Homo sapiens: one gene and its partners. The protein of the gene in region 5 purifies or fractionates together with the protein of the main gene of each other region. This does not show direct contact. Each region holds a gene or a part of one and is shown on either strand. Other genes may lie near its edges.

Region 1 (3,500 bases), on a different chromosome or scaffold from region 5:
GGCGTCCTGGCAGTGCCGCCACCACCAAGCCCATCGTCCGCTCTGTCTCCGTGGTCACAGGCAGCGAGCAGAAGAGGAAGGTGCTGGTGAGTACTGTGGCCTAGGAGTCCGGGCCCCTGCCTCCTGGAGGGCTGTTGTTCAGTTGGCATCTGACCCCTGGGTCCAGCTCCACAGGTGAACAAGTGCCTCACATCTGGACATGCTGGATCCTCGTGGCTGTTCCAGGAGGCAGGTAGGACTTGAGTCTTACAGGCGTGGGTGCTGAATCACTAGAAAGTCAAGCCAGAGCTTGGATTCTTTCAGCAACAGCCCCAGGCCTCCTGTGCCACCGCCCTTTGGATTTGTTTGAATCCTCAGGAAATGGGGTTGGCTGGGCTCGGTGGCTCACGCCTGTAATCTCAGCACTTTGGGAGGCCGAGGCAGGCGGGTCATCTGAGGTCAGCAGTTCAAGACCAGCCTGACCAACATGGTGAAACTCCGTCTCTACTAAAGATACAAAAAAAAATTAGCCGGGCATGGTGGTGCATGCCTGTAATCCTAGCTACTCGGGAGGCTGAGGCAGGAGATTTGCTCGAACCCAGGAGGCAGAGGTTGCGGTGAGCCGAGATCGTGCCGTTGCACTCCAGCCTGGCGACAGAGTGAGATGCCATCTCAAAAAAAAAAAAAAAAGAAAGAAATGGGGTTGACCTGTGGGGAGGGGTGATGAGCTCCTGGTGGCCTTGGAGAAACCTAGACGGGTGTGTGGGTGTGTGGGCAGCAGGACAGCCGTGGGAGCTTCGGGGTGAGAGCTGCCTTTCCTGCCCACCTCTGGGAGTAGGGAGGAGGGTGGGTGGTTCCCAGATGGGGGCTGTGAAAGGCAGGCCGGGCCTGCTGCACCCTGAGTTGGTGTCTGCCAGGCCCAGTCTTTGGGGCAAGGGAGGAATCGAGCCGCTCTGTGGGGGTTGGGGCAGAGCCTGACCAGAGTCTGGCCTGAGCTTCCGAATAGCAAGGGCCTGGGGGCCTTGGCTTCCATGCGGCAGCCGGTCTGGGGCTCCCTGCCTGAGGTCCGTGCCAGGCAACATAGCAGGGCAGAGAGAAGGGGTCTGGAGGGCAGTTGAGGCTTCCCACAGGAACCCCTGGCAGGCCCAGGCCAGGGTTCCACTGTGAATAAAAGGCTTGGACCTCCCCCTTCTCCTTGAAAAAGTTATTCCTGTGTCTGCCCTAGAAGCACCCCCAGGTGGGCAGGGTGTGGCCCGCCAGACGGCTAGCCGAGTTCCGGGGTAAGGGCAGCCGGGCCAGTAGCGGACCCTTGGACCAAGCAGGTTCCCAAAGCCTGGGCCAGCAGGGCGGGGACCCGGGATGTCCTGATGTGTCATTGTGGCCGGCAGGTTGTCTAAAGATGTGGTACGCCTCTAGGCATTTACAGACGTAAGCTGTGAAAATAAAAATATGCTGCACTGTTTTAGCAGAGGGGTAACCAGCTTGGGCTAGAGCCGTCTCTGAGCCTGCTGCCTCTCCTGTCCGCAGCCCTGCTCCTGCGTCACTGACCCCCTCGCCCACCTGCCTTGGCCCCTCCCGCTGTTTCTAAAGCCCTAGGTTCATGGCACATGGGGCGGGGAAGACGCACTCGAAATCGCAGATCTGGGCTGGGCGAGGTGGCTCACGCCCGTGATCCCAGCACTTTGGGAGGTTGAGGCGGGTGGATCACCTGAGGTCAGGAGTTCAATACCAGCCTGGCCAACATAGTGAAACCCTGCCTCTACTGAAAATGCAAAAATTAGCCGGGCGTGGTGGCGCGCACCCTTAATCCCAGCTACTCAGGAGGCTGAGACAGGAGAGTTGCTTGAACCCGGGCGGAGGAGGCTGCAGTGAGCCGAGATCATGCCACTGTACTCCAGCCTGGGCGAAAGAGCAAGACTCTGTCTCAAAAAAAGAAAGAAAGAAAGAAAGAGGGAGGGGGAGGGGGAGGGAGAGGGAGAGGGAGAAGGAGAAAGAAAGAAATTGCAGCTCTCTTGTTGTGTGGAGACTGTTGTAAAAGTTTCCGGGCTTTCTAGTAGATGGTCTTTCGGCGGCATGGCCAGGCTCTATCCGCGGCCGACCCAGGCACCTAACCACACTCCCAGCCTTTCTGCTGGGAAATGTTCTGTTGCTGAGTAGAGGTTCAAAGCCACAGCGAGCGCTACTCATATCGATCCCTCCTTTCCTCGGCTGGTACCATTGCCCGCTCCCGCAGTGTTGAGTGGCGACTGCTAACAGTCCCCTCGTTCATGGAATGTTCCAGCTGTTCACTTCAATTCTTTGAGGCCCTCGCTCGATCCGAGACGGCCCCACCCCTGCATGCCTGTCTGCCTTCTGTTGTGCCCATGGTGGGAGCTCGGGAACTGCTGGTGGAAGAGGAACCCCCGCCAGTGTGTGACGTGACCTCAGGGGTTTCTGTTGTGCCCGGTCCCCATCCTCTCGGCCACCTGCCCTGCTACCACTCAGTCTCATCGGGATTCCTGGAGAGCATTTGTTTTGGCCAGGCATGGCTTCACACCTGTACAAGGCGGCACGTGATTCTCTTCCTCCTGGTGTTTGTGGGTGGGGTGGGGTGCTGTCCCCTGGCTCGGAGACCTTCTCGGTGGCCATTGGCCTGGGGTTTCCACTCTACCCCTTGTCTCTAAAGATCTTCCTGCGTCCACGGCCTGCTGTCCCGGGATTCCCCATCCAGGATGTAACTGCAGTTCCTGCTGGTCTTCTGGCTCAAGAGATGTCGGTGCCAGACTGTAGAGGGTCCCTCTTCCTTGCCCCAGCTGTGTGCCCACCTGATCCTCTAGCCCCCTAGATCATTATTCACTCTGGTTCCCTTCCCCTTAAAGAAAAGAGGTCTTTAAATCCCAAGAGCACAAGCTCACTGGGGAACAGACATCACTGTGCATATGTGTCATGGCCATGGGGGCCACCTGCCCCTCCCTGGGCGATGTTGCCTCCTTCTTGCAGGTGGAGTTTAGGGTTTTTAGTCCATGACTTGATTTACCATCTGAGCATGAGTGGTGCCTTTCCACCGTGGTGTCCGTCAGTGAGTGGCAGCCCCTTCATCCCTCCCCTGACATCCCTTATCTTCCTCTTGGAGGCTGCGAAACTGACCCCAGGAAAATGGAGACAGGATGAAGGGCACCCATAATCCCATGGCCCTGATGCAATGACTGGTGCCATTTTGGGGGATGATTTCAAAATTCCTACCATGTGTTTTGAATAGGCCATTCACACCCACCATTTGGGAAAAGGGGGCTCATTGAGCAGTGAGCCTGTCCTGCCCGACCTTGCGGGCCTCTCCTAGGCGGCCACTGTTCTGTTTCTCCTGCACCCACACTTACTCTGGGCACACAGGCATCAGTGATGCTGGAGATGTGTTGGAACAAGTGCCGTATCCGTCAGCTGCGTGGGGCTCCTGCATTCTCTTTTCTTTTTCTTTTTAAGACGGGGTCTTGCTCTGTTGCCCAGGCTGGAGTGCAGTGGAGAAACCACAGCTTACTGCAGCC
Region 2 (3,500 bases), on a different chromosome or scaffold from region 5:
AAGGCAGCTCTCTGGGCCCCTTTTTTTTTTAAAAAGGATGCCAATTCCATTCACCTCCTAAAGGCTCCACATCCTAATACTGTCACATTGGTTATTAAGTTTTAACATACACATTTTAGGGGGACACAAACATTTATATCCTGCTAGAAGTTAAGATGATTTTCTGTTCCTTTGAGGGTCTTGAGGAGTAAGAAGCCAATCAAGTCAAGGGGCTCTAGACCCAGCAAATAGATTTTTTGTTTTGTTTTGTTTTGAGAGAGGGTCTCACTCCATCACCCAGGCTGGAGTGCAGTGGCACGATCTCGCACTGTAACCTTTGCTTCTCAGGTTCAAGTGATTCTTGTGCCTCTTGAGTAGCTGGGATTACAGGCGTGTGCCACCACGCCTGGCTAATTTTTATTTATTTATTTATTTGTTTATTTATTTATGTATTTATTTTTAATAGAGACAGCATTTCACCTTGTTGGCCAGGCTGGTCTTGAACTCCTGGCCTCAAGTAATCCACCTGCCTCGGCCCTCCCTAAGTGCTGGGATTACAGGTGAGAAGCACCATGGCCAGCCAGATTTTCTTTTTTGCTGCGGGGTGGTTTGGAGGGGGAAATATTTTATTGGTATTCCATACCTTTCTTTTTTTCCTCCAAACATCTATAGAATTACACTTAACACATCATTAATAATAAATATTTCCAAAAAGAGCAGGTAAGCTCACAGAGATTAAGTATGTGTAAAATACATACTGTTTCGATAAAGATTAATTATGTATTGTTATTTTAGAGAAAAGGTGGATAATACCTACTTTCCAATGTATTTTTAGCGTGACACATTTCAAACATAAAAGTATAGAGAATACAGCAGTGAATACCTATATAGCTACAATCCAGTTAAATCAAAATTAGTATTTTGTTTTTCTTCATTAAGAGATAAAACATGACACATATATTTGAAGCTCCTTGGTTCCCTGCTCCTTCCCATTCCCCATCTTTCTTTTCAGAAATAACCATTTATCTTAACCTGATTTAAATCAATAGTAGTTTGTTTCTGTCTTTAGCAAAGGACTTTTTGCCATTCGTAAATTACTTAATTAGCTAATTAATCTGTCATTTTATTATTTTTTTCTTAAGCATTTGTGTTTGTTAATTATACTTCTTTTACAAGTGTATATGTCATGAACTTAGAAAACAAAAGTGAATTACTGATTAACACATGTTTAGTGAGTATTTAGTCTTTTTGTTTTATACCTTGCCCAGTACCATTTCCCTCTACAGGGCGGAGGTTCATTTGTTTAAATAATGCAAAGATGTGACCTATTTGCTTCCCATATATTGTTTACTGTGTATTAGTACTAAATTATATAAGTAACCTACAAAGTCAGCCTTTTATTCTTCATTTAGGGTGTTAAGTAAAAGATTAAAAATGCACTGATGAAGCATGGGTTGAAACTTCTCAATATAGTCTGAGGCACCTTAGCAACAATTATTATGAAATTGTCATCAAAGCGTGTCTTCATGCTTATAGTCATTCTTCACACATATTGAGTACCCACTATGTGCTAGTTCTACTACTAAATTCTAGGTAATTAACTGTAAAGCAGACATGGGTTCTCTCCTTGTATTTGCCAGTCACTAGAAACTAGTGACAATACTGTGGAACTATAAGGCATGAAATGATTGGCTTATTTACTTGCTTACAGTAGGTAGGCCTTAATTCTATTAACTCTTTGTGTCACTTAACAGCTTTAACTGTGGAGAAAATTGGCATGATCCTGTTAAATGTAAGGTGAGTTTGTCTGACATTTCAATTTTTAAATAATGGCACACTTCTAAGACTTAGTGACTAAAAATCATAGCTGATGATTTTGTTATCTATCTATTGATAGATTTTTTTTTATCCTTTTAATTTCAGATGATCATTACATGTATTCAGAGGTAATTCCTTAGGATAAGCCAAGTCAGCTCCTGATTGTTATTAGGATAACCATGGCTAAGGCACCTCTTTGTCAGGCTTTGTAATTAGGGGAATACACACCTTGCAGTTGGGCTTCTCTTCAAGCTCTAGGTTCCCCACTCAGCTTCTGCCAAAGAAAATCCTGCTTTGGTTGATTTTATATATACTGGACATTGTAGCTATGGGATTTCCCTGGCTTAAGAGGATGTGAGCCTAGTGATAATCTTATTCATTGGCTTTTACATTTAAGCTTGACTATAGTTAAGTGCTAAAGTAATTTGCTATTTTTAAAAGTCTTTTGTTGTATCCTAACCGTTGTTATTTTCAAACAGTGGTTAAAGAAATGGATTAAAAAGTGTGATGATGACAGTGAAACCTCCAATTGGATTGCAGCCAACACAAAGGTTGGTGTTTTCCTTCAGTAACTCTTGGTAATAAAAATGATAAGGATTGGTACTTTGGCATTAGCAAAAGCAATGAGGTGACCTACTTACAGGCTTTGTTTCATCTTTTTCTCCATTGAGTCTTTTTTTTTTTTTCCCAGAATGTTTGCCTGTTATTTCCTTTTTCTCTTTGAGTTTATTTTAGAGTATTGAGTACTGTAGTACAGCATCCACAGTTCTCTGCCTTAGGTTTCTTCTACTGGAAAAAAAATTAGTGTTCTGTAGAGGAAAAAGCTGATAATTTTTCAAGTGTGGGATTTGTGCTTGGCTGCCATTTAGTATACAAATGCATTGGAGTTTACTCCGCCTAGCTTGGTTCTGTTAGGCTAATTTACATTTTTGTTTCTAATTTTTTGTTTTGAAGTACATTGCTCTTGATACTAGTTTCAAAATTCAATTTCAAAATTCACTTTCTTAACCCCAGACAAATGTCTTAGAAGTGTTTAAATCTTGAGTACCCTTCTCCTCGATCACTAATCTAATGAGCAAGCATTTGAATGCCAACCGTGTACCCAGCTAGTCTTTTAATACAAAGTCGTATTATCCATCCTTTATGTAATTCAGTCCTATCCTATCCCCATAGTGAGTGACTTGGGTAATGAATGGTAGGTTGGTTCATGGGCTATTCATTTTTAGTATTATTTTGTACATGTAAAGATGATGCTTTAAAGAATGCTGAGTTGTTTGACCCATAGTATATAAAGCTATCTTTGAACTGTTGCCTCAGTCATCACAGGACAATGAGATTAAGAAGTGTGTAAACAATGAAGGCCGACGCAGGTTGTCTGTGTGTGTTTAAATATACATCTTACATACTTATATATAAAACATGAATTTATATTTCTGTCTCCCAGAAAGTAGTGAAACAGTGAATCTTGCCACATAAAACAAATGCCCAAGTCTTTAAGGAATATATGGTAGAAATTAATATTTTTTGTTCCCTCCAAAACCATCACGATAAGCATAACTCACGTCAATCAAAGAAAACCTTACTATAAATATACTGTAATGTCAGAAAGTGGTTACTTGTTTTGTTATTAAAAAAAAATTCTTAGCCAAGCATTCTTTTTTTGAAAATTGAAGATTTTCCCACAAGAAATGTTCCTTAAGTCC
Region 3 (3,500 bases), on a different chromosome or scaffold from region 5:
CTTTCAATTTCAGGTCCTCTAAGGAAGGGAATATGCGAGAGACTTTGGGATTTAGCACTGTGAAATGCTTTCTCTTGGCTTAAGGAGCTGTTGCTTTCTCTCCCCTGTTACGAATTGTGTTCCATATCTGAGTTCCCTTTTTGCCTGGCCTGCAGGGGAGCTCCCGTGTATCTGAAAATGCTTTAGGCACAGCAGTGGCTTTGACCCATGTGGTTAGTGCGTTGATCTCTCTCCTCCCTCTGGGCCTTACTTGTTTCAGTGTTCACATGGTTGGTAGTTTATTAAAGCCTTTGTGGAGGGCTGGGCTCAGTGGCTCATGCCTGTAATCCCAGCACTTTGGGAGGCCAAGGCAGGCGGATCATGAGGTCAGGAGATCGAGACCATCCTGGCTAACATGGTGAAACCCCGTCTCTACTAAAAAATACAAGAAATTAGCCGAGCGTGGTGGCGGGCGCCTGTAGTCCCAGCTACTCGGGAGGCTGAGGCAGGAGAATGGCGTGAACCCGGGAGGCGGAGCTTGCAGTGAGCCGAGATCTCGCCACTGCACTCCAGCCTGAGTGAAAGACTCTGTCTCAGATTAAAAAAAAAAAAGCCTTTGTGGTAGTTGCCTCTGGTCCTTTCTTTGAACAAGGCAGAGGAACCAACTGAGATTACAGCAGGCAGTGGGCAGAGCAGCAAAGGCTGGTGGGACACAGGCTCATGGGAAGGTGAAGAGCCTAGGCTGACTGGAACCCCGTGGGCTGAGGAGTGGGGGAGATTTGATTGGGAAAGGAGAGCAAGGGCAGAGGAGGAGTTTAGACTTCATTCTGGGGGTCACAAAGTTATCACTGAGGTGATAGCCCTCCTGAGGTGGGATACTACGAAGGGCCCTTCTCCCAGTGCTCCTGACATAAGCTAAAATTTTAGATTATAGGCTCAAAAACAGAGCAGCCCTGGGACTTCACCACCTTAGCAGCCCCTCCTGCCCAAGCTGCCACCTGAGCAGCAGGGGACACCGACTAAGAAGCCTTTGGTGTGTGAGTGCAGTTGAGCAAACATGCGCCCGCCTTGTGCTGGCCACCCACCCGGAGACCCCGGTCCTCATCCTGCGTTGCTCACAGCGGAGGGGGGAGGTGCCTCCGGAAACAGGAACTTAGGATGTGGTGTCATCGTGGTGGAAGCCAGGAGCACCCTGTGGGGACCCAGAGGAGGAAATGACCTGAACAAGCCTCTTGTTCAGAGGTCCTTCCCCAGGAAGCAGTGGCCACGCTGCAGCTGGAAACCAGAGGGCCTGGCCCCCGGGTGGGGAGCAGGCATTTGGGAGGGAGGCCAGTCTCCCATGCTGAGGCTTGGAGGTGGGAACGGGTGTGCCTGTTCTGGGAACTGACTGCGTCGTGCTGAGGACTTGATGTCTACATCTCACAGTATGTGGGAGCCTTGGGGTGGGGGCCGGCAGGGGGTGGTGTTGGAGAGGTGACGGCTAGGTCAGGCAGGGGTGGGGGACGTAGGCCAAGTGCGGGCGCTGCCCACCCAAAACAACGTGTGCAGTGGGCAGGTGAAGCCAGTAGGCGATGGTGGGGCCGGGGGTGAGCGGGTGGCACACGCCTGTCTTAAGGGGGCTGCGGCGAGGCCCCGGTGATGGCTGCTCCGGGCTTGCAGGTGATGTCGCCAGGGCTCTGTCACCTCAAGAGAAACTGGGACCCTCATCTCAGTATGAAAGTTCCTGGTTTTTAAGTGGTGGTAACTAATGAACATGGTTTAAAAATATCATACCAGCAAAACAAAAGCCATCTGTGGGTCATATTTAGCCAGTGCTTGCTGTGGCTCATGGGAACCCCTGAGGGATTTTAAGCTCAGGAAAATCATGGTCTGATCCGCATTTTGGAAAGGTCCTTTCAGGGCCTATGGAGAGCAAATAAGGCAGGTAGCAGTGAGGAAGGCTGGACCATGATGCCACGGTCCAGGCAGCAACATTGGGAGCATGGTGGCCCCGGCACTAGGGTAGGAGGTCCAAGAAGTTATCTGCAAAACAAGGAGCACTTCTGGAGGGCCCTAGGCACCTGCTTAGATATGGGGATGAGCAAGTGAGTGAGTGAGCCTGGTGCCCAGAGGCCTGGCAGGTCAGAGATGAGGTGGCTGAGGGCCCTGAGGGAAGAGAGGGGCTGTGTGACAGGGTTTGACGGGGCAGAGGTACCACCTCTGAAACCCTTCCTGCCAGATTGCGAAAGAAGCATGGGGGCTGTAAGAAGGCCAGAAGGGGCCGGGCGCGGTGGCTCACGCCTGTAATCCCAGCACTTTGGGAGGCCGAGGCGGGCGGATCACGAGGTCAGGAGATCGAGACCATCCCGGCTAAAACGGTGAAACCCTGTCTCTACTAAAAATACAAAAAATTAGCCGGGCGTAGTGGCGGGCGCCTGTAGTCCCAGCTACTTGGGAGGCTGAGGCAGGAGAATGGCGTGAACCCGGGAGGCGGAGCTTGCAGTGAGCCGAGATCCCGCCACTGCACTCCAGCCTGGGCGACAGAGCGAGACTCCGTCTCAAAAAAAAAAAAAAAAAAAAAAGAAGGCCAGAAGGCCGGGCACTGGTGGCTCATGACTGTAATCCATCCCAACACTTTGGGAGGCCAAGGCAGGAGGATCCCTTCAGCCCAGAAGTTTGAGACCAGCCTGGGCAACATAGGGAGACCCCATCTCTACCAAAAAATTAAAATTAGCCGGGCATGGTGGTGCACACCTGTAGTCCCAGCTACTCGGGAGGCTGAGGTGGGAGGATTGCTTGAGCCCAGGAGGCAGAGGCTGCAGTGAGCCGTGATTGTACCACTGCTCCCCAGCCTGGGTGGTAGGGCGAGAACCTGTCTTAAAAACAAAATCAATAAATAAAATACAGTAAAAAAGAAGGCCAAAAGCCCCTGTGGGGGGTAGGTGCACCAGACACTGTCCCTTTGGTTTCTAGGGTGACCATCGGGATGAGGAGGAAGAGACCCACATGAAGAAGTCAGAGTCGGAGGTGGAGGTGAGAGCTGGGGGCACCAGCCAGGTGAGGCAGACAGGGCTATCTCAGCTTGCCTGGCCCAGCCCCAACCTTTTCCTCGTGCCCTCAGGAGGCAGCAGCTATTATTGCCCAGCGGCCTGACAACCCAAGGGAGTTCTTCAAGCAGCAGGAAAGAGTCGCATCGGCCTCTGCGGGCAGCTGTGATGTACCCTCGCCCTTCAACCATCGACCAGGTAGTCCTAGGCCCCACCCCCCGTCCGGCCCCACTCCTCAGGTTGCGGCCCTGAGCCTCTCTGGGACTCTCTCAGAAGGGAGGCCTTGCCCAAGCAACCCTTGGAGAAGGCGAGACCCTTCATCCAGCGTGCATCCGCCCACCACTTCCCAGGTGGCAGGACCCCAAGAAGGGCCAGGGATGGTGGTGAAGTCGCTTGTGGCTGAACAGTGGGGAGTGCTAGGGCCTGTGGGGCAGCTCTGGCATGGGCTGAGGCACAGCGCTGGCCACGGGGAGCAGCTCGGCTGGGGTGAATTAG
Region 4 (3,500 bases), on a different chromosome or scaffold from region 5:
CTTAATTGCCATTGGCCTCACAGTCACTCTCCCCCTTGTCATGGGTGCCTGACTGGAGCTACCCACACCTGCATAAACCTCTGAAGAGCAGGATGGACCTGGCACATTCATGGGTTTATCTGGAGACTGCACAACTATGAGTTGGTTTTCAAAAGGGTGTTTTGAAAACCACCACACATTGCTGGATGTCATAAGGCTTCATGGCTTAGTCAGAATTCTTTCATAGCTGTGGCTGCAGCTTGGGGAACTATAGTTAGAAGTGCAGGAAGAACATGGGGAGGGATAAAGTACAGAATCTCTGCAAGACAACCCCATTGGTGGGGAGACAGACTTGAGGCCGCTTTATTGGACAGGAGCCTGACTCAGAATGAGAAGTGAAGATGTTCTTCTGCCAGCAGGGTGGCACTGGAGGAGCTGTGATATTTCAGACCTTTCTTGGGATGAGTTGACTACAGTGCTTCACATCGAATGGCTTGCAGTTCAGTCAAGTTGGAGAGGCATGTGCTGGGATATATATACTATGGGAACATGGAGCAGTGAGCAATTCCAGGCTGTGGTCATGTCCACAAAGCCTCCATGGCAGAGGGAGGCTGTGAGTGTCAGTTCAGCAAGTTGACAAGAGGACAAAGGGCATTCCAGGCAGGAGAACTGCGTGTTCAGAGACATCCTTAACACAGTGTGACAGGCTCAAGAAGTCAGGGGTGGCCTGAGGCATGTGAGCCAGGGCTGGGGTGACAGGAAGCAGTGCCACCAAAAGTAGCTGAAGTATGCTGTTTGTGGCTAGCTCAGAAGCTCAGGCTGACAGGGAATCATCAGAGTAGGCAGAGCTGCTTCTGGTGTCCATGGATGAAGACTGGTGCGGTTGAGAATAGGTCAGAAGTAAAGAGGCTGAACCAACGCAGGGAGGGTGATGAGAAGAGGCCTGAGAGGTTCTGCAGGCGGTTCAGCAGAGCTTGGCTAATGCTTGGGTGCTGTGGGGTGGACAGAGAAGTCTGGGCCAGGTTCACTGCTGTTTGGCTAGTTTGGTGCATGACATTGCCACTGATGAGGCTGAGAGACCCAGAGGAGTTCAAGGCACCCATGGGACTTGTAAGTGGGCCCTTGCCATCAGCAGTCAGAACAGAGCTCTGAGGCTCAGCGGCCAGGTGTTGCACTGGCATAGAGACCTGGGAGTCACTGGCATGTTGATGTAAAGACTCAGCTAGAGTCAGAGGAGGGAAAGACAAGGAGCACCACTTTTAAGGAGTCAGCGTGTCTAGGACCTGCCAGGTCTCTGAGTGCTAACGGATCCTTTCTGGAGGAGACCACTGTCCAGTTCCCACATAGGCAGCCCCAGACATGCCCAGCAGGTCAGCTGGGAAACAAAGCTGAAGTCTGTGCTCTAGTAGGAAAAGGGCTGAGCTGCTGTTAATCATCACTGACCACAGGCCTCCCCTGCTGAAAGGGGGAGACATTCCGATTTAAAAGCTCAGTCCAAAGGCATCAGGTTGTTGGTCTGTGAAACACATTTGTAGTAAAGCAAAAGACTGCTAGGAAACCCAATGACAGCCTTGCCTGAAAACACAGGCACACATACATATACACATATCATTTCCTGCTCAGAGTGAGCACAGGCACCTTTTTGCAAGGAATGTTTTAAAATGGAGTTCATTGCAGCAAGGAAGGGATCCAACTAATTGTTTTGGAAAAACCCAGACCCTTCTGGGTCTCTCTAGCCCTCAGTGAGCAGTTAAGACTGGGTGCTCCTTGACAGGGCGCTCATGACAGAGGCCTTTACTCTTCTAACATCACTCCAGAGCCAGGGCCTCTGCCATCTTACCTCTGTTGGGCCTGTCTACACAGTAGCCCCAGAGTGCCCAGAATTCTGTTTTCTGTCCTCACAGCCATCTCTGTGGCTCATCCCAGATGATTTGAGATGCACCTGGGATTAGAGAGGTGTTAAGTGTGGACCGTGGCATGTCCTGACAATGTCCCTAGTATAGGTTGAGCATCAGAGTAACAGGGACTCCTATCCCTGTGGCCTCCAGTGGTCACAGCATTGACTGCTGGTGCTGGAAGGCCCCAAACACCATGGAGTGTGACGTCAGTTTATCAGTACATGGGAGACCTGCCCAGTTGGTTCAGTGAGCAAACATGTTCATAGGGAAGACTTTAGGGGGCCCCAGAACAGGCCAAGGCCCCTCATATCCCCTCTCCCAGCACCCTGCACTGGCCCTTTGAAGCATGCATTACGTTTATCTTTTAAATGACTAGGGGGTTATTTATTGTCTTTTTCCCCACCAGTTCCACAGGGACCACATCTGCCCAGCATAATACCTGAAGTGAATGCATAAATGAACAGGATGCTCCAAGTAAACATTCGAGACCTTGGATGGTGCTACAGTAGGAATACAGTTAGGGGCACCCCTCCACCCACCTGCAGTCTGATGGGAGAATGGGCACACGTGCATCAATGCTGTGGTGTGCAGCACATGGGGCCCTGAGGATGAAACAGCCAGATCTCAACATTTGGGAGGGCTGGCAGAAGGCAGAGGCAAGTGTGAGAGATAATGGAGGTCCCAGCCAAAGGGAACAGCTACTGCCCAGGCAGGGAGAAAAGAAGTGGAAGGGTATTTGGGGGGAACCTTGTGTGGCTCCCTGTTTGCTAGTTTAGACCACAGGTGGCCCAAGGCAAAGCTGGACATGTGTGCCAGGCCTAGATTTCTAGGGCATTACATGGCAGGCCAAGAGTCCTGGTTCTATCATGAGAATTGTGGCAGCCACAGAAAGCTTTCAGGCCAGGGCCGGGGCATGTTCAGGTGGGTGTGTACCCAGATTGCCCCACCCATGGGGTAGAGGGTGGATTAGAGGAGAGGGGGCTCTGGTAGGGAGACCTTTTCAGGAGACATTTGTGACCACTTGATTAAAATAGTGATGACCAGGATCCCATCACTGGAGGTGGAGAGAAAGAGCCCCACAAGAGGTGTAGAGGAGGGTTTTCCTCTGGACTGGGTGACTGGATGGGGATTGGGAGCAAGGAAGGAAAAAACACCTCTCTCTCTCTTCTCTAAAGATTGGCCCATCTGGTGGACTAGAAGTGCTCAGAGGGCCTCTTACTGCAACCTGACTATACACTGTACTGACTCCTGTAAGCTGTTCTTGCCTCTCACAGATAAAGAATCTAAAATAGAGACACTGCTTTCATCAGAGAATCTAGGTATCTGCCTTTACATCATCTTTTTAGGGGAGGGTGTCATAGCTGTTTTTCTTTTATGAAGCCTTTGGTAAGTTTATCAGCCCCAGTCTCAAGTGTATGAAAATGCAATTATTAAACAAGTGTATAGAATGTGGCCAAGAAATCCCATTTCCTTTTTCATCATGTGGCATAATGGCAAGGCACTTAAGTAAAATTGATGTCATGGTATAAATTGTGCAAAGCCAAGCCTTTCTTTTCAGGGATCAAACTGCTCCAGCGGAGTGCATCACCTGGACCCGGAGGGCCCTGCAGCTACAGACAGTGG
Region 5 (3,500 bases):
CCCAGCTACCCGGGAGGCTGAGGCATGAGAATCACTTGAACCCAGGAGGTGGAGGTTGCAGTGAGCCGAGATTGTGCCACTGTACTCCAGCCTGGGCAACAGAGCAAGACTGTCTCAAAAAAATAAATAAATAAATAATTTTTTTTTAAAAGTGTTGTAGTAGTGAAAAGGAGAGATCGGGGTGGAGACTTGGCAGCATGAGGCAAAAACACGGCAGCAGGGAGGAGGGTCACGGCAGACTGGAGGGAGCCCAGAGAGGACCCCATGGAAAGAGTGGCAGACCCTTCAGGGAGGCCAGGGACACCTCTCCCTGGAGCCTGTGCAGTTTCTGTTGAGTTCTAGGGCCTAAGAAATTAATCAAGAAGAGACAGGAGGCCTCAGAGGATGCCCAGACCTGGGTGGTCCAAGCTGTGGCCTGTACCCATTCCTGGGTTGTACCATCAATTTAGTGGGCCATGAGCAGCATTAGAAAGATGTATATATTTTCCTATATGTGTCCTGGGTCACAAGATGAAATGTATTTCTTACGGTATTCTGTCCAGAAAAGTCTGAAATCTACCAACTTTAGTCCAGTATCCTCTTCATACCTCTGAGAATGAGAAGCCCAGAGAGGCAGGGTGAGTTGCCCTCCAGGCCAGCACTTTTCCTGGGGCCCCTTGGCTTGGCTGGAGGCTCCTTTGCAGGCTGCTCCCAGCCCCAAGGTCAAGGATTACTGGCAGCCTCGGGGTCCCTGGGATTACATGGGAGCTGTGCACCCCTAAGGGGAGGGCAGCAGGTACTGCCAGGACTGGCCCCGATGCTCACCTGGGGACATGGCCTTCATGTCTCGGGGGAACTTGCGGCACACGTTGTTGTAGTTGGTGCAGATGTGGTGGAGACACCAGTCGGCCAGCTGGTACGCACAGTGGAACTGGGGACAGAAGGGAAGAACGTCTGTACTGAAATCCCCAGGGGAGAGGGTCTGCATAGACACCTCCAGCTGCCTTCAGAGCTGAAGCTCTGGTGCAGGGCACGCAGAGGCCCTGCAGTTCTAGAGAGCCTGCGCCAGAGGCAAGGCCACACAAAACTGAGGATGATGATGCTGCCTCAGGCTCCTTGGCACCACCGCCAGCACCACCATCATCTCACCTCTGTTCTGCCCACTCCTGGCATCCTCGCTGCAGACACCAGAGCCCTATGTAGTGGCTTCATACTGCATCTGCCCTCCTCAGATCTCAACCTACCTGACTTCTCTCTCCTCCACATCTGGGATCAAGGCAGCCTGCACGGAGGCACTGACAATGAGCTAAGGGAGCTGCCTTCCCAGGGGTGTCTGCAAGCCCTGCCTGAGCCGTGCTTCCACTCCACACACTAATCTTTGGTGGCTGAATTTCTGGCACTGTGAAGGCCACTGTGGGAGATTTGGCTTGTTTGTTTGGGATTAAGGGAGTAGGCGGTTAATTTCAGATGGAAAGTCCTCAGTGCCCCTTAAATGACCTCAGGCAGGCAGCAACCATGTGTAAGCCTGAGCCTGGGGTTCCCTCCCCAGCCCTACTGCTGCCTAAAGCCTCATCCCTTCCCCACTTGGTCAGCTCCCCTCCGGGTACACCAGGGAGTTCCCCAGCTGCTTCCTGGCATGGAGGAGGAGATGGGCTACGCGCAGTCAAAGAGCCCAGTCCGATGACAGGTTCTCCCGCATAGACCATCTTCCACCCCTTCCCATTCGCAGCCAATGGGCAGGCAGAGTGTAGAACTGAGACTGTTGTAGATTCCCTCCCCTGCCATGATACCTGAGCCAGTTCCAGGAACACAAGGACGTCCCCATCGATGTCCACCATCATCTGGGTCGCTTCCATCAGCCCGGTCACTGTGTACTGCTCTGTAACACACACGGCCACCAATCAGCTGAAGAAGCACATGACCTGTGCTCACCCTGCCCCACCACATCCCCCAGCTCACTTCAGGGTGAGGAAAACCAGGGCCCGGGCAGGTCCGGACAGGCCAGGAAAGGCCCCAGGCTATGACGTCTGCTGCCACCAGGGGGACCCCAGGGATGACAGCAAGAGCTCAACGGGGTAGGGTAGGAAGAGAAGGAGGACATTGGAATTACCTAAGAGGATTTTTCAAACTACGTATGTCCCGTGACATAATCTGATACAGGTAGGGTCAAAGTTCCCAACAGAACCAGCCTCTGATACAAAAGGGAGAGTGTGTGAAACCTCATGTCTGCTGATCACAGAAAAAGGCTGAGAACTGTGAGTTAGAACTAGGAGTTAAGTCTAGTTGTTTGTTTTAATTTAAATTTTGTAAAAAATTGTGTACTAACCTTGTATTTTAAGTTAAAACACTTATATTGAAGAAGTAAACACCCTTGGTTCTGAATTTTAATTAGAAGTATCAGTATAAACTCATGAGGTATCTTATCTTTAAAAAGATCAATATATTTCCCAGCTCTGCCCCCAGAAAAGACCTAGAAACAACAGTCATCCCAGTACAATGAGCATTCCTAGTGCACACAAATACCAGTTCCACTTCCAACACAAGAAACTAGGACTTCCTGGAGAAATGGCTGATTCCAGGTCTGGGGCACAGAACCTTCAAGAGGAACCTAGAACATCTCATCATTCCAGATAGAGAGGAAGCTCGTAAGACTCTGGAGTCAAGCCAAAGAGTGCAGGATTTGAGCTTCAGCAAGGATAACTGCAATTAACTGAAACCAATCAAGAATGTTCAAATCTAAGGGGCCATAATAATACTTCAAAAACAAACAACTGGCCGGGCACGGTGGCTCACGCCTATACTCCCAGCACTTTGGGAGGCCAAGGCGGGTGGATCACTTGAGGCCAGGAGTTCAAGACCAGCCTGGCCAACATGGTGAAACCCTGTCTCTACTAAAAATACAAAAATTAGCCGGGTGTGTTGGTACGTGCCTGTAATCCCAGCTACTCGGGCGACTGAGGCATGAGAATCTCCTGAACCTGGGAGGTGAAAGTTTCAGTGAGCCGAGATCACATCACTATACTCCAGCCCAGGTGACAGTAAGACTCCATCTCCAAAAATAAAAAATAAAAGTAAAAAATAATGCAAAAAACCATGCTGTAGTGTTTAATGACACACACTTGGATGATAAAACTATAAAGGAAAGTAAGGCAGTATGCCCATAAAAAGTGCCATAAAAAAAGGAATACTAGGCAAAGGGCTTCCTCTTAGGGAGGAGAGAGGGGTCTGTGAGAGAGGAGGGAGAGGTGGAGGACTTCTGGTGGCCAGCAAGGTTCTAGTTCCTGACATAGGTCATGAGTAGAAAGGCATTTTCTTTATAATAATTCATTAAACTAGGCCAGGCTTGGTGGCCCACGCCTGTAATCACAGCACTTTGGGAAGCCGAGATGGGAGGATCACTTGAGGCTGGAGTTTAAGACCAGTCCAGGCAACACAGTGAGACCTCATCTCTGCAAAAAATTTAAAAATTAGGCCGGGTGTGGTGGCTCACGCCTGTAATCCCAGCACTTTGGGAGGCCAAG
Region 6 (3,500 bases), on a different chromosome or scaffold from region 5:
ACAAAAGTAGAAACTTTTCATCCTAGAAAATGTATGAAATAGAAAAGAACAATATGAAAATGAAAACTTACCTGAATTAACTCCATCTATAGTTAAGTCTCTTTTTTGATGTAAATATCTTTAAAACTCTTTAGTTTTGAGCGTGTGTGACTCTGTGTGTGTGTGTTCCAAATAATATAACACAAACTGGCAGCACCAAGCTATATTTAATGATATTCAGTGTTTAATATTTAATGATTGAAGCTGTGCGTTTACACACACAGATGTGCACACACATAACCAGCATAGGGCTGTTGTTATTAATTGAAGGACCTTTATTAAATGTAATATTTCCATGTGTTGTTTTTTTTCTCCCCCAGCTATGGGAGGTTTATGGAGAACGGCGCTGTCTGAGAACATTTATTGGTAATGCTTCTTTTCTCTCCAACATAAATCTGGGAAGAATTTTTAAAGTAAGATAACATCATTGACAATAACTTTACTACACCGATAGGAAGTAAACTCTTCATAGATTTCAGCTGAATCTGGAAGGAGGAGTCAGTGTCCCCAGTTAGACAAAGAAAGAGAACTAGGAAGCAAGAGCAGCGGATGCAAAACAAAAATGGTGTGAGACAGCGTGCTGCTGAGGGGATCCACGTACATTTCAGGATTGTCAGAGTATGGGGGATGGTGAGAGACAAAAGCGGAGAAAAGTAGCAAGAGAGGGACCAGAGTATGGAAGACCTCCTGTGCCATTAATAAAGAGTTTAGCCTCTGTTGTGAGGGCATTGGGGAACCATTAAAGAGCTCTTGCCGGAAAGCAACATGATTTGAAGTTTACAAAGATCAAATGGCAATATGCAGGATGATTTGGTAGGGCAAGCCTGGAGGAAGGGAAATTAATTACACAGTTATTTCATAGGTCTGGTTTAGAGATGATGAGCGCCTGAACCAAAGCAGCAGAGAGAGAAAAGAAAGGAACTACGTATTAGAGTTAAAGTCAGTGAGATTTAGTAACGGCATGTGAATGATCACAGTGAGACAGGAATCTAGAGTGACTCCCATGAGGCTGGATGAACGATGGTGCCATTCACCAAGAAGGAACATAAGATGATGGTAAGGTTTTAGATACACCAAATTTGAGCTGCCTTTGGGATATTGAGGTAAAAATGTTCAGTAAGCAATTAGATAGCCAGAGGTCGAGCTTTGAAGAGAGACTGGGAATTGACAGCTAAAGCATAAAAAAAGGATGAGATTGAGAGAACTCCTTGAAGAAAGAAAGAAGGCCAAAGGGAGGACAGCTTTGTGACAAACCAGATTTTTGGTAGAGAAAGGTTTATTGTCTTTGTCAGATTTCATGTGAAGGCTAGTTACTCATTCCAAATTTAACTGTACCACGTTGAAACGGTGTGACTCGTAGTGGCTCTGTTTTTAGATTAAAGTGGGAGTCTGTTCAGCAGTGCTTTATGATTTTAAGGCCTCCCTGCACAAATTAATACTGCCTAAGATGTCACCGCAGCCTAAAGGAAGACTTGTGGAAGGCTCTCAGCTGTGTACAGGGGAACAAAATGTCTCCATCAGATAGAGTGGATTTGGTCCGCATCTGTCTCCCCTCTACTGGCAGACCATTTTTCTGTGGAAAACTGAAATTTTCCTCCTGAAGGAGATGATAGAAGCTCTGACTGGGACTCCAGCTGTAGAAAAGGATGCCTAATTACCATGACACGTACCTCCTGATGGGAGTTCACTGGAGGTGATGGTTTAGAGCTGCTGCATGTGGTTAACAATTTGTGCCATGCTCATTTTGCACAATTGTACGTGTCTTGGTCATGGTGGGGTGGCAAAAATAGGAACATTTTTGCTTTTGTTTAGCCACATTTTATTTTTCCCTGTAACTTTTAAAAGAGTTGAGTGAACTGGCAATATTCATTTTTAAGTAAAGTATAATAATCAGCACCTTAAAATTAGTGTATTATCAAAATATCATCTTAAAGCAAAAGAAGGTAGCCTGGGCAACATGGCAAAACCCTGTCTCTACAGAAAATACAGAAATTAGCCAGGCGTTGTGGTGTGCACCTGTAATCCCAGCTACTCGAAAAGCTGAGGTGGGTGGATCGCTTGAGCCAGGAAGGTTGAGCTTACAGTGAGCTGAGATCCAGCCACTGCACTTCAGGCTGGGCAACAGAGCAAGACCCTATCTCAAAATAAAAATAAAAAACCATGCAAGCTAATATAGTTTTCAGAAAGTCTCCTACATTCTGAATCAGTTTCTATGAAATTTGGTAATGTGATCACAGAAATATACAATTATTGAACAAGGGCTACAGTTTCCTGAACTTTAGGTTTGGGGCACTTTGTTTTCACTTGCAGCCTGGTGGACATTCTGAGAGTGAACCTCCAAAATTCCAGCAGCCATTTCTTTCACTGGCAATAATTGGTCTTTTACATTTCCATAAATTCTTGGCTAGCTAGTCATCACTTGTATGTACTGCATATTAAGTAATTGCTATGGCAGACTTAAAAGAAAAGTTAAACCTTTTCCTCTTGGTTCTTAACCAAGATGTTATGCATCAGAATCACCTGAGGAGCTTCTTCAAGGGGAAAAAAACGCCCACATTCTGAAGCCCACACATAACATATTCTAAGTCAGTAAATCAGGCGGTGGCATTCCAGTGATCTTGACTCACAGCTGAGAACCACTGCTTAGTGCTGTTTGTCTTTATGGTGTTAATGTTTTAAGAGAAGAAGATATATGATACTTCACCTCATTGCTGTTTCTGTTGACTCCACCTTTAGGTCACAGTAAGGCTGTTAGGGATATCTGCTTCAATACTGCAGGAACACAGTTCCTCAGTGCAGCCTATGACAGGTATCTTAAGCTCTGGGACACTGAGACAGGTAAGAGTTCACTTATGCTAATACACATTCATCTTACAAGTTATTTATATTTGAAATGGTGTGAGTAGTCTTTTGTGGCAAAATGGCACCTTCTCTAACTGCTGATTCTCATACCATTCACTGTCAGCAAATATCACAAAATACATTTGTAAGTCGAAACTGAGCATGAGTAGCTCTTTCACTGTGAAACTTGTTTCCACCAGATAGATTTTATAAAGCAAACGTACTGACAAATAAGCAAAGTGGAAATCTTGTATAGGCCATCTAATTGATTTTTTTGTTCCCCTACATCACCTAGCACTGTGCATTGCACATAACAGAAGTGCAATAAATGTCTAATGAACAAAATTAAATGTATTTGCGCAAATTGATTAAAATGTAGGTCTCAACTTTCACAGGCCAGTTGGTTTTATATATTCACAGCCATACTAATTGCTGTTTATTAATTGATTCACATTAATATGTTGTGGCTAGTATAATTTTATGTAATTATAAAAATTATCTTACTATCTTATTGTCTTACTGTCATTACCCTTACTGCATCTGAAGGGTAATGATAATAGTTAATGTTTATTAAACATCATTTAACAGGCATAATTGCTAAGCACTGATATTCAGTGTCT
Region 7 (3,500 bases), on a different chromosome or scaffold from region 5:
CACTTTGCATTTTCCCTATTATAGCTATTAACATATTTTATGGCAACTACATTATTTGCTTCTATATCCCATTAGACAATCTTATTTATTGCCATATTCCCAAAAACATAATAAAAACAGGTCCACAACCTCTTATCTGAAATCCTAAGATTCCAAAAGCTATTTTAATTTTTAATTTTTTTTAAGATGGAGTCTCGCTTTGTCTCCCAGGCTGGAGTGCAGTGGTGTGATCTCAGCTCACTGCAACCTCCGCCTTCTGGGTTCAAGCGATTCTTCTGCCTCAGCCTCCTGAGTAGCTGGGATTACACGCATGTGCCACCACGCCCGGCTAATTTTTGTATATTTAGTAGAGACGGGGTTTCACCATGTTGGTCAGGCTGGTCTTGAACTCCTGACCTTGTGATCTGCCTGCCTCGGCCTCCCAAAGTGCTGGGATTACAGACGTGAGCCACCGCGCCTGGCCCAAAAGCTATTATTATAACAAGTTTTTTTTTTTTTTTTGAGACGGAGTCTTGCCCTGTTGCCCAGGCTGGAGTGCAGTGGCGCGATCTTGGCTCATTGCAACCTCTGCCTCCCAGATTCAAGCCTCAGCCTCCCGAATAGCTGGGACTACAGATGCCCGCCACCACGCCCTGCTAATTTTTGTATTTTTAAGTAGAGATGGGGTTTCGCCATGTTTGCCAGGCTGGTCTTGAACTCCATACCTCAGGTGATCCGCCTGCCTCGGCCTCCCAAAGTGCTGGGATTACAGGCATGAGCCACCTCGCCCAGCCCAACAAAGTTTTTCATTAAGTTGCTGTCAAAATGTGGTTGGTGGGATAACCTAGCCCAAACTGACTAAAGGCTACTTATAGTCTTTATTTCTCCCTTCAGTATAAATATTCATATTTTACTGTAGAAATATTAATGTGTTCAATTGTAAGTTGTTGTCTCAGACCCTGCTATAGAGATGTTGGTATATGCACTGCCTTGCTTTTCTTAAATCCAAACAATTCTCAATCCCAATGCATATCTGATCTTAAGGACTTCATATTAAGGTTTACAGGCCCTACAGTATTTGTTTTCAGCAGGAAAATTTTACAAGTAGGTTACATTATGGAACAATGATGTGTGCTTTGTGAACAGGCAATATCTAAAAGAGTTGAACAGAATAGGATTCTTCTGAATGTCTAAATTTGGCATTTTTAAGTTTGAAATACAGATTCCACTTATGCTTGTCTGTGTAATAAATATTCTCTTTCTCATCTACAAATACCCAAATATCTGCAATTACGGAAAAGACAAGGGAAAAGAAGACAAACTAAATAGACAAATGAAAAGTACAATCTCCCTTATGTTAAAAGGGCCATGGATCCAATGGTGATTAAGTAAGATCACAGAAAAAAAACCTGAAACGACAGGTACGCCTGGATATAGAACTTCATTTTGGATATATGACTTTTTGGTTTGTTTGCTTTTTGGAGACAGGGTCTCATTCTGTTGCCCAGGCTGGAGTGCAGTGGTGCAATCACGGGTCACTGCAGCCTCAACCTCCTTAGCTCAAGTGATTCTCCCACCTCAGCCTCCCAAGTAGCTAGGACTACAGGCATATGCCACTACATCCAGCTAATTTTAAAATTTTATTTTGTAGAGATAGGGTCTCCCTATGGTGCCTAGGTTAGTCTCCTGGGCTCAAGCAATCCTCTTGCCTTGGCCTCCCAAAGTGCTGGGAGTACAGGCATAAGCCATTGTGCCCGGCCCCTAAATTAATATTTTAAGCGAGTATTTATATTATCCATAATTGTAGTTTACTTAAACAAAAACTTATGTACAGACCAAGTCTGCTATCTAAATTTGGTGAGTATCACAACCATTTGGGGACCCCTTTGAAAACATGGATTCCCTGACATTAGCTTTGGGGATGCTGATTCAATCAGTGTGAGAAGAGGCCTAGAAACCAGTATTTTCCAAAAGCAGCCAGATTTGGCACCACTGCATTAGGAGATTAAAAAAAAAAAAAAATCAAAACACAGATTCTGACCTGTGTCTACCACAAAGACACATGCATAAACAAAGTAAAAGGTGAAAGTGCCATGTTCAGATAAAATTCACAACAGGTTTTATGGGAAATTGTTTCTACTTCAGATCAGATTATATTTCATCACTTGACCTAAATGACTTCACAATTTAATATGATACATCAAAACAGAATTCTGAAAAACTTAAATTCTTACCTAAATTGGCATACATTACAAACAGGTTGAAATACTGCTGTAAATGACGCCCATGCTCTGAAACTTCCCTTCTCAAGAGATTTAGTACTGCTCTTAGTAAGTGATCACTCAAGCTTAAGTTGTCATAAGCCTGTAAAGGATAAAACATTACCTGTTTTACAGCAACAAGGTATATGTATACTTCTACTTGCATAAAAAGGACATGCACATATGCTGATACAGGCATACATTTATGGAAGGACTGATCACACAAACTAAACTATTTTGCTTCTTGGGAAAGGGAATGAAGATCAGAGGCGGATTTCATTATAATTTTTTACACTTGTAATTTTTTAAAAAAATCTAAGACTATTTAAAAAACCTTCAAAATAGGAAAAAATCTACTTAACAGTAAACTTATAATTAAGCTACTGCATGTAACCGAACAGAGAAAATTCTCTTACATTTTTAAAGAGCCAATAATTACTATTCATTGCCATGCAGTAATATTAAATGGAACTCACTGACATCATATTGTGTGTTTCTGTTAGGTAAACATATCAAGTGGATGCACATATGCTTGTGACTTCGACTTCCAGGAAACACAATTTATTTGTAAACATCTCATCATTTAGAAAGAAAGCTGTGCAATTACCTGACTAGAAGGTCCAGGAGAGGCAAAAGGTGAAGGACATGGCCCATCTTGCAAGGAAAAATGTGCAATAAAGACTATAAGTTTTGCAAACGCACCCCTCACTTCTGCACTAGGGCACTCCAGAAGGTATTCGGAGAAGCGATTTGAAACATTAAAAAGGACGTTATGAGCAAACCAAAAACGTACATTCTTGCTGTGACGAAGGAGAATACACAATGCATCATACCTAAAATAAAACAAAAAAACCTATGACTATTAAGTCAATAACTTGTTCTCTATAGTAAAAGGATGAGTCTCATTGAACCAAAAAAAAAAGACAAAGATCTTCCTCTACTGCTGGAGAGAACCAGCAAAGGTTGCTTCTAATATTAAAACAATAGATAAATACTATGACTTGGTCTATTCTCTCAGAGTTACCAAACAGGTGAAAGCTTGTCCTCTAAAAATCCATTAACAAACTCTTCCTAGATTCAATGACAAAATACCACCCCCTTATCTTGACATATTCCTGAAATGAGTAAGTAAAAATTATTAAATCAATGTATCATAATGGCCTCTATACTTTCACAATTAGAAACTTAAGAAAACCATTTTAATTTTTTACCCTTTTAATCGGTGTCAGAATTCAATCTAGGTAAGCTAAAACCTAATAA

The links.
Region 1: the proteins of RHOBTB2 (region 5) and CEP131 purify together in Homo sapiens (affinity purification with mass spectrometry, with the first as the bait; one large-scale study listed by BioGRID). This does not show direct contact.
Region 2: the proteins of RHOBTB2 (region 5) and ARIH1 purify together in Homo sapiens (affinity purification with mass spectrometry; 2 studies listed by BioGRID and IntAct, with this or other methods). This does not show direct contact.
Region 3: the proteins of RHOBTB2 (region 5) and DBN1 purify together in Homo sapiens (affinity purification with mass spectrometry, with the first as the bait; one large-scale study listed by BioGRID). This does not show direct contact.
Region 4: the proteins of RHOBTB2 (region 5) and MACROH2A1 purify together in Homo sapiens (affinity purification with mass spectrometry, with the first as the bait; one large-scale study listed by BioGRID). This does not show direct contact.
Region 6: the proteins of RHOBTB2 (region 5) and CDC40 purify together in Homo sapiens (affinity purification with mass spectrometry, with the first as the bait; one large-scale study listed by BioGRID). This does not show direct contact.
Region 7: the proteins of RHOBTB2 (region 5) and USP9X purify together in Homo sapiens (affinity purification with mass spectrometry, with the first as the bait; one large-scale study listed by BioGRID). This does not show direct contact.

What each region holds. Positions count from the first base shown.
Region 1 is NC_000017.11:81,216,466-81,219,965, reverse strand, and holds part of CEP131 (centrosomal protein of 131 kDa), read left to right. Parts: coding exon 1-86; intron 87-3,500. UniProt on the Homo sapiens protein: Component of centriolar satellites contributing to the building of a complex and dynamic network required to regulate cilia/flagellum formation.
Region 2 is NC_000015.10:72,564,830-72,568,329, forward strand, and holds part of ARIH1 (E3 ubiquitin-protein ligase ARIH1), read left to right. Parts: intron 1-1,733; coding exon 1,734-1,776; intron 1,777-2,276; coding exon 2,277-2,348; intron 2,349-3,500. UniProt on the Homo sapiens protein: E3 ubiquitin-protein ligase, which catalyzes ubiquitination of target proteins together with ubiquitin-conjugating enzyme E2 UBE2L3.
Region 3 is NC_000005.10:177,460,135-177,463,634, reverse strand, and holds part of DBN1 (drebrin), read left to right. Parts: intron 1-1,208; exon of another isoform or gene 1,209-1,403; intron 1,404-2,931; coding exon 2,932-2,991; intron 2,992-3,079; coding exon 3,080-3,203; intron 3,204-3,500. UniProt on the Homo sapiens protein: Actin cytoskeleton-organizing protein that plays a role in the formation of cell projections. Required for actin polymerization at immunological synapses (IS) and for the recruitment of the chemokine receptor CXCR4 to IS.
Region 4 is NC_000005.10:135,389,232-135,392,731, reverse strand, and holds part of MACROH2A1 (core histone macro-H2A.1), read left to right. Parts: intron 1-3,500. UniProt on the Homo sapiens protein: Variant histone H2A which replaces conventional H2A in a subset of nucleosomes where it represses transcription. Nucleosomes wrap and compact DNA into chromatin, limiting DNA accessibility to the cellular machineries which require DNA as a template.
Region 5 is NC_000008.11:23,013,048-23,016,547, reverse strand, and holds part of RHOBTB2 (rho-related BTB domain-containing protein 2), read right to left. Parts: intron 1,859-3,500; coding exon 1,770-1,858; intron 911-1,769; coding exon 805-910; intron 1-804. UniProt on the Homo sapiens protein: Regulator of cell proliferation and apoptosis. It likely functions as a substrate-adapter that recruits key substrates, e.g. MSI2, to CUL3-based ubiquitin ligase complexes for degradation. Required for MSI2 ubiquitination and degradation.
Region 6 is NC_000006.12:110,214,927-110,218,426, forward strand, and holds part of CDC40 (pre-mRNA-processing factor 17), read left to right. Parts: intron 1-359; coding exon 360-405; intron 406-2,775; coding exon 2,776-2,877; intron 2,878-3,500. UniProt on the Homo sapiens protein: Required for pre-mRNA splicing as component of the activated spliceosome. Plays an important role in embryonic brain development; this function does not require proline isomerization.
Region 7 is NC_000023.11:41,217,945-41,221,444, reverse strand, and holds part of USP9X (ubiquitin carboxyl-terminal hydrolase 9X), read right to left. Parts: intron 3,074-3,500; coding exon 2,848-3,073; intron 2,344-2,847; coding exon 2,214-2,343; intron 1-2,213.